Linked DNA regions of Homo sapiens. The protein of the gene in region 2 purifies or fractionates together with the protein of the main gene of each other region. This does not show direct contact. Each region holds a gene or a part of one and is shown on either strand. Other genes may lie near its edges.

What was found. The genes of interacting proteins can lie anywhere in the genome.
Region 1: the proteins of CNOT1 (region 2) and BTG3 purify together in Homo sapiens (affinity purification with mass spectrometry; one large-scale study listed by BioGRID and IntAct). This does not show direct contact.

The regions. Positions count from the first base shown.
Region 1 is NC_000021.9:17,599,402-17,602,901, reverse strand, and holds part of BTG3 (protein BTG3), read left to right. Parts: intron 1-3,500. UniProt on the Homo sapiens protein: Overexpression impairs serum-induced cell cycle progression from the G0/G1 to S phase.
Region 2 is NC_000016.10:58,623,327-58,626,826, reverse strand, and holds part of CNOT1 (CCR4-NOT transcription complex subunit 1), read left to right. Parts: intron 1-3,500.

The DNA.
Region 1 (3,500 bases), on a different chromosome or scaffold from region 2:
TTATGTCCAAGGATGTTTAACAAGTTACATAATTATATAAACATTTTGGACCTATGTATTTAAAATGCTTAAAATAAGTCTCAGTACCTGAACATAAAAACTTTAGTTATACGGACATTCTACTTCAGTAGACATTTCATTACTTGATGATGCCTGGTAGGAAAAAACTGCTACTTTGCTTTCATCTTATTAATCTTAGAAAACCTTTTCATTCAGTAGGCTTCTAATTTATATGTAAATTTGCCAAAAATTGGCTCTGATGTGATTTTTTTCACAGCTAATAGAAATCACCTGCGAGTGTCAGGTGTTCATTCAATAACAGAACCCCAAAAAGAAAGACGTATTAATCGTTTAGTAGAGGTGGTTGATATAAGTTAACAGAAGAAAAAGACATTGAGAAATATTTTTTCACCAAAACTGGAAACATAGATATTTTGAAAATTAAAGCTGATCTAGCAAGTATACAATTGATCAAATATCTGAGAATCTTTAAAAATAATAACTCATTGGTATACTAGAGACTAAGATTGTAAAAAAAAATTGAGATGCACTGAGAACATTCTTCATAGTCTTCACTTACTCTGATAGAATAAAATGCTGCAAGAGTACAAAGAGTGCCATATAGTTAGAAAGGTTATCACTTCGTGATACAGAATAGAAAATAAATCTTGCCTATGATGAGAAGTTCTGAGAACAGATGCCAGCTTATCTACTCAACATATTTTACAACTTTTTTTTTTTTTGGTGATTTCTGCCATCCTTTTTTTCCCCCAATAGAGTGTTAAATACTATTGATTGTTTCTAAATAACTAAATTAGCCTTGATGTTTTATCAGTGATCATTGAAAAATGGAAAGTTTAAAAGTTGTCCAGGTGTCTACTAATTCTCCTAAGATATCGACTGCACATTGTAATGTTATAGTAGTATAGTCAGCAGCTTCTCTTACCATGAAGAGAGAGCCTTCATACCAAAATAGTACAAAGGGAAAAATGCAGAACCAAACTAGGTGTCAAAGAAATCTGAGTTAATAATGCTGATCCTTCAATCATTAGATATTTGCCCTTGGTTGAGGTTTCTGTTTACAAAGGCAGGAATTTTTCTCAAATTTCTTGCCTTTCCATTTTTGAATTTTGATTCCATTAATGGGCAAAACTGAAGATAGGCCTAAGTCATTGTTATATTAGTGTCATTAACACATGAATTAACCCTTGATTGTCTTGAAATTTGTTGAGTCTTCCAACTGTGGAGGGGACATGGAGTAAATGTGTATTGCTAAAACCTTATGCTAAGTAAACTTGAAATTAGAGAACACAAATTTTATGTTGTGAGGAACTCAATTGTTTAGGAATTTATTTTTTGTTTGTTTTGTTTTGTTTTAGAGAGAGGGTCTTGCTGTGTTGTCCAGGCTGGAATGCGGTGGCATGATCATAGCTCACTATAATTGTGAACTCCTGGGCTCAAGCAATCTTCCTGCCTTGACCTTCCAAAGTACTAGAATTATAGATGTAAGCTACCATGTCCAGCTTCTGTTTAGGTATTTTATACTACGAAGAGTCACCAGCCGTAGATCAACCACTATCTAGCCAGCTCCAGCTTCCTCGTCCAGCATATAGGAAACTAAGGCCTAGGGAAATTAAGTGACTTGCCTCTGGTGACCAAGCTAGTCAGTGGCAGAGCCAGAATGAGAAACTAGTCTAATGCCCTTTCTACCATCCCGTAGCAACTTTTTTTTTTTTTTTGAGACGGAGTCTCACTCTGTCGCCCAGGCTGGAGTGCAGTGGTGCGATCTCAGCTCACTGCAACCTCTGCCTCCCAGGTTCAAGCAATTCTCCTGCCTCAGCCTCCCGAGTAGCTGGGATTACAGGCGCACACCACCATGCCCGGCTAATTTTTTGTATTTTTAGTAGAGACAGGGTTTCACCATGTTGGCCAGGCTGGCCTCGAACGCCTGACCTCATGATCCACCCGCCTTGGCCTCCCAAAGTGCTGGGATTACAGGCATGAGCCACCGCGCCCAGCCCCTGTAGCAACTTTTATGAGGTAAACTAAAAAAGAATACAAAAGCGAAGTTATGTACTATATTTAAGTAGTATTTATAGTTTCATTTGGCCTATAGGAATGGAAGACAGCATAGCTATCTGAAGAAATAGAACTCATCTATGTGTGATCTCTGAGACTGCTAGATTTCCACATACATTTTCTTTTCTGTTTTTTTAATTTTTTGTTCTTGTTTTTTTGTTTTTTTGAGAGACAGGGTCTCACCATGTTACCCAGACTGGTCTCAAATTCCTGGGCTCAAGCAGTCTGCCCACCTAGGCCTCCTGAAGTGCTGGAATTACAGGTGTAAGCCACTGCACCCAGCCTCATGTACATTTTCAAAGGCTTTATAGCAGTTAAGCCTTTTACTTTATAATAGATAACCATTCTGATTCAGAAATAATTTGAGACGAGTGCTATCTTGAAATGAATTAACTTCAGCTAACTATTGAATCAAAAGCTTGACATTATTTCTACTTAGAGTTACTTATTTTTATCTTTTTTCAAACTTAGAATCACTTTAATTACATTTCTAACTGTATGTGTTTTGTAAGAACCGCTTAACAATATCCTTTGTCCTGATGCTAGAAATTGTTTGATAGTGTTGACACTGTGCAATCTATTTAAATAGATTTGTGGATTTCTCCTATGTCCACTGAATAAAAACTCTTGGTTTTACTTGAGTTTATTACACTATTTTCCTACAGTTCAGAATTTTTTTTTAAGTAACCAGCAGCATATGTTACATATTTTGACAACTTAAAAAAAATCAAAAATCTTCAAAAATGTTTTGGAAGAATAACAAGATTTTTTCATCTTACCTTAAAAAAAATTAAGATGAGAGGTGAGTAGTTATCCTAGGAAACTCTGAAGTAAGCAATATAATTTAAGCAAAACCTCTATATTCTTCAACAACTATCTTTTTTCTTTAATCTCAATAACTGCCTCAGTTCTCATTTTTGTGAGTATAAATAACAGGCCCCCTTTTTTATTTAATTGGGGTTAAAGTCAATTTTATAGGAAATTTCTAGTTGATCTGTGACTTGAATTACTAGCATATATGTTACATTTATAAGTACAGCTGGGGCTGGGCGTGATGGCTCACGCCTATAAACCCAGCACTTTGGGAGGCCGAGGCGGGTGGATCACCTGAGGTCAGGAGTTCAAGACCAGCCTGGCCAGCATGGTGAAACCTCATCTCTACTAAAAATACAAAAATTAGCTGGGCGTGGTGGTGGGCACCTGTAATCCCAGCTACTTAGGAGGCTGAGGCAGGAGAATCACTTGAACACCTGGGAGGTGGAGATTGTAGTGGGCCGAGATTGCACCCATTGCACTCCAGCCTGGGCAACAGAGTGAGACTCCGTCTCAAAAAAAAAAAAAAAAAAATCAGCCAGTGGCGCATGCCTGTAATTCTAGCACTTTGGGTAGCTGAAGTGGGTGGATCTCTTGAGCCTAGGAGT
Region 2 (3,500 bases):
TGCAAAATATTTGTTATGAGTATTTTGTCCCACATTAACAAAAATAGTAGTCTGCCTTTTTTTTTTTGAGACGGAGTCTCACCCTGTTGCCCAGGCTGGAATGCAGTGGTGCGATCTCAGCTCACTACAACCTCCGCCTCCTGGGTTCAAGCGATTCTCCTGCCCCAGCCTCCCAAGTAGCTGGGATTACAGGCGCGCACCACTGCACCCAGCTAATTTTTGTATTTTTGGTAGAGACGGGGTTTCACTATGTTGGTCAGGCTGGTCTCGAACTCTTGACCTCGTGATCCACCCGCGTCGGCCTCCCAAAGTGCTGGGATTACAGGCATGAGTGACCGTGCCCAGCCTAGTAGTCTGCCATTTTGAAATGCTGTATTTTATGAACTTGGTATATCTTTTTTTTTTTTTTTTTTTTTTTTTGAGACGCAGTCTCGCTCTGTTGCCCAGGCTGGAGTGCAATGGTGGAATCTTGGCTCACTGCAACCCCTGCCTCGCAGGTTCAAGCGATTCTTCTGCCTCAGCCTTCTGAGTAGCTGGATTACAGGTGCCTGCCACCACAGCCAGCTAGTTTTTGTATTTTTAGTAGAGAAGAGGTTTCAACGTATTGGCCAGGCTGGTCTCGAATTCCTGACCTCAGGTGATCTGCCTGCCTCAGTCTCCCGAAGTGCTGGGATTACAGGCGTGAGCCATAGCACCCGGCCTGAACTTGGTATATACTTTTATAAAAGAAAAGACTTTCAAGTCATATATATTAACTGAGGCATTTCTTTAATGACCCTCTGACCAAACTAAAACTTCCTGCTGTGAAGTTTCAAAATGGCATCCCATTGAGTGACTCTATATATAGAAGAATCTAGCAATTCCTTTTCTGTTTGCTCACAATTTTAAAGATGAATCTTTGAAAGTTAAAAGGGGCTCAACACCTTCTGCCCCCCAGTGTATACAATAGTTTTTTTTTTTTTTTTTTTTGAGACAGGGTTTCACTTCAATGCCTAGGCTGGAGTGCAGCGGCACAATCCCTGCTCACTGCAGCCTTGATATTCTGGTCTCAGGTCAGTCTCTCACCTCAGCCCCTGAGTAGCTGGGACTACAGGTGCATGCTAACCACACGTGTCAAAAATTGTTTTTTTTCTTTTTTTTTTGAGAGAGAGTTTTGCTCTTCTCCCTCAGGCTGGAGTGCAGTGGTATGATCTTGGCTTGCTGCAACTTCTGCCTCCCGGGTTCAAGTGATTCTCCTGCCTCAGCTTCCCAAGTAGCTGGGATTACAGGTGCGCGCCATCATGCCTGGCTAATTTTATATATATATGTTTTTTTAAAACAGGGTTTTGCTCTTGTTGCCCAGGCTGGAGTGCAATAGTGTGATCTCTGCTCAGTGCAACCTCCGGCTCCTGGGTTCAAGTGATTCTCCTGCCTCAGCCTCCTGAATAGCTGGGATTACAGGCGCACGCCGCCATGCCCGGCTAATTTTTTGTATTTAGTAGAGACAGGGTTTCACCACGTTAGTCAGGCTGGTCTCGAACTCCTGACCTCAGGTGATCCACCTGCCTCGGCCTCCCAAAGTGCTGTGATTACAGGCGTGAGCCACTGCCCAGGCCTGTATTTTTAGTAGAGATGGGGTTTTACCATGTTGGCCATCTGGTCTTGAACTCCTGACCTCAAGTGATCTACCTGCCTCAGCTTCCCAAAGTTCTGGGATTACAGGTGTGAGCCACTGCGCCTGGCCTAATTTTTGTATTTTTTTGGTAGAGGTGAGGTTTCACTGTGTTTCCCAGGCTGGTCTGGAACTCCTGGGCTCAAGCGATCTGTCCACCAAGACCTCCCAGAGTGCCGTGATTACAGATGTGAGCCACCATACTGGCCTATGATACTTTTTTTTTTTAAGTGTACTTTTCACTCAAATTTGCAAGAATGTAGCAAACCAAATAAAGCATTGTTCACTGGAAAGCGTAGTTTGAGAAGGCAGTAATTAGAGGTGTAGACTTAATATGAAGCCATTTGTTGAGTTTTTTCGTTTGTTTGTTTGTTTTTTAAGATGGAGTCTTGCTCTGTTGCCCAGGCTTGAGAGCAGTGGTGTGATCTCGGCTCACTGCAACGTCCGCCTCCCAGGTTCAAGTGATTCTCCTCCCTCAGCCTCCCGAGTAGCTGGGATTACAGGCGCGTGCCACCACGGCTGGGTAATTTTTGTCTTTTTAGTAGAGATCTGGTTCACCATGTTGGTCAGGCTGGTCTCGAACTCCTGACCTTGTGATCCACTCATCTCAGCCTCCCAAAGTGCTGGGATTATAGGCGTAAGCCGTCGCACCCACAGTGATTTAAAGGAATGTAGTGTATATATTTGAGAAATGCATTTATATCTTTAATTCTGGAAAACACAGCATTAACTAACCTCCAGCATACCTGTTGCTTAACTGTGTTACAGTTGTTACAGGGAAATTCCTGAAATGTTGAATACGTTGCAACCATGTAGGATAATTTTTTGTTGATTCTGAGAACATAAACTTTCTTCCAGTATATTCTCACACCACCAGATGTGTGGGGTTTTCCCCTGCGCATCAAGCAAGCTATTCAGCAGTGGACACCACATGGGTATCCTCTAATTCAGTATTATTCTGACACGGTGTACCTGAAGATAGCATCAGATCCCACAGGTTGAAAGCTCAAGTCCCATAGACAGTCCCCCACTTCCAATGCTAATCTCAAGTCCCAGGTGGTTTTACCTGTGTTTCTGACCAACTGACTATAAATTGAGTTCCTAATACCCCCTTCTTTTGTTCAGTTAACTTGCTAGAGTGGCTTATGTAGAACTCTCGGAAATACTTAGGGTTTTTTTTTTTTGGAGCCGGAGTCTTGGCTCTGTCACCCAGGCTGGAGTGCAGTGGCACGATCTAGGCTTGCTGCAACCTCTATCGCTCTGGTTCAAGCGATTCTTCTGCCTCGGCCTCCCAAGTAGCTGGGATTATAGGCATGCGCCACCACACCTGGCTAATTTTTTATATTTTTGGTAGAGATGGGGTTTCATCATGTTGGTCAGGCTGGTCTCGAATTCTTGACTTCAAGCGATCGACCCACCTCAGCCTCCCAAAGTGCTGGGATTACAGACAGGCATGAGCCACTGTACCCGGCCAACACTTAGGTTCAAGAGTTTATTATAAAGGATATGGATGAGGAGGTGCGTAGGAGAAGTAAGGGCCGCGGAGCTTCCATGCCCTCCCCTGGCTACACTGTGCCTCAGCTATCTGGAAGCTCTCTGAACCCAGTCATTTATGGGCTTTTATGGAGGCTTCATTACAGAGGCACAGTTGGTTAAATCATTGACCTTTGGTGGTCACCTTAACCCTTAGCACCTTTTCCCTCCCTGGAGTTTGGAGGAGGTGGGGCTAAAAGTCCTAATCCTCTCATCTTGCCTTGATCTTTCAGGTGACCAGCACCCATGCAGAAACTACCTAGAAGTTGCCAAGCTATCAGTCAACTCAGCATACAAAAAGAAACTTACCATTCTA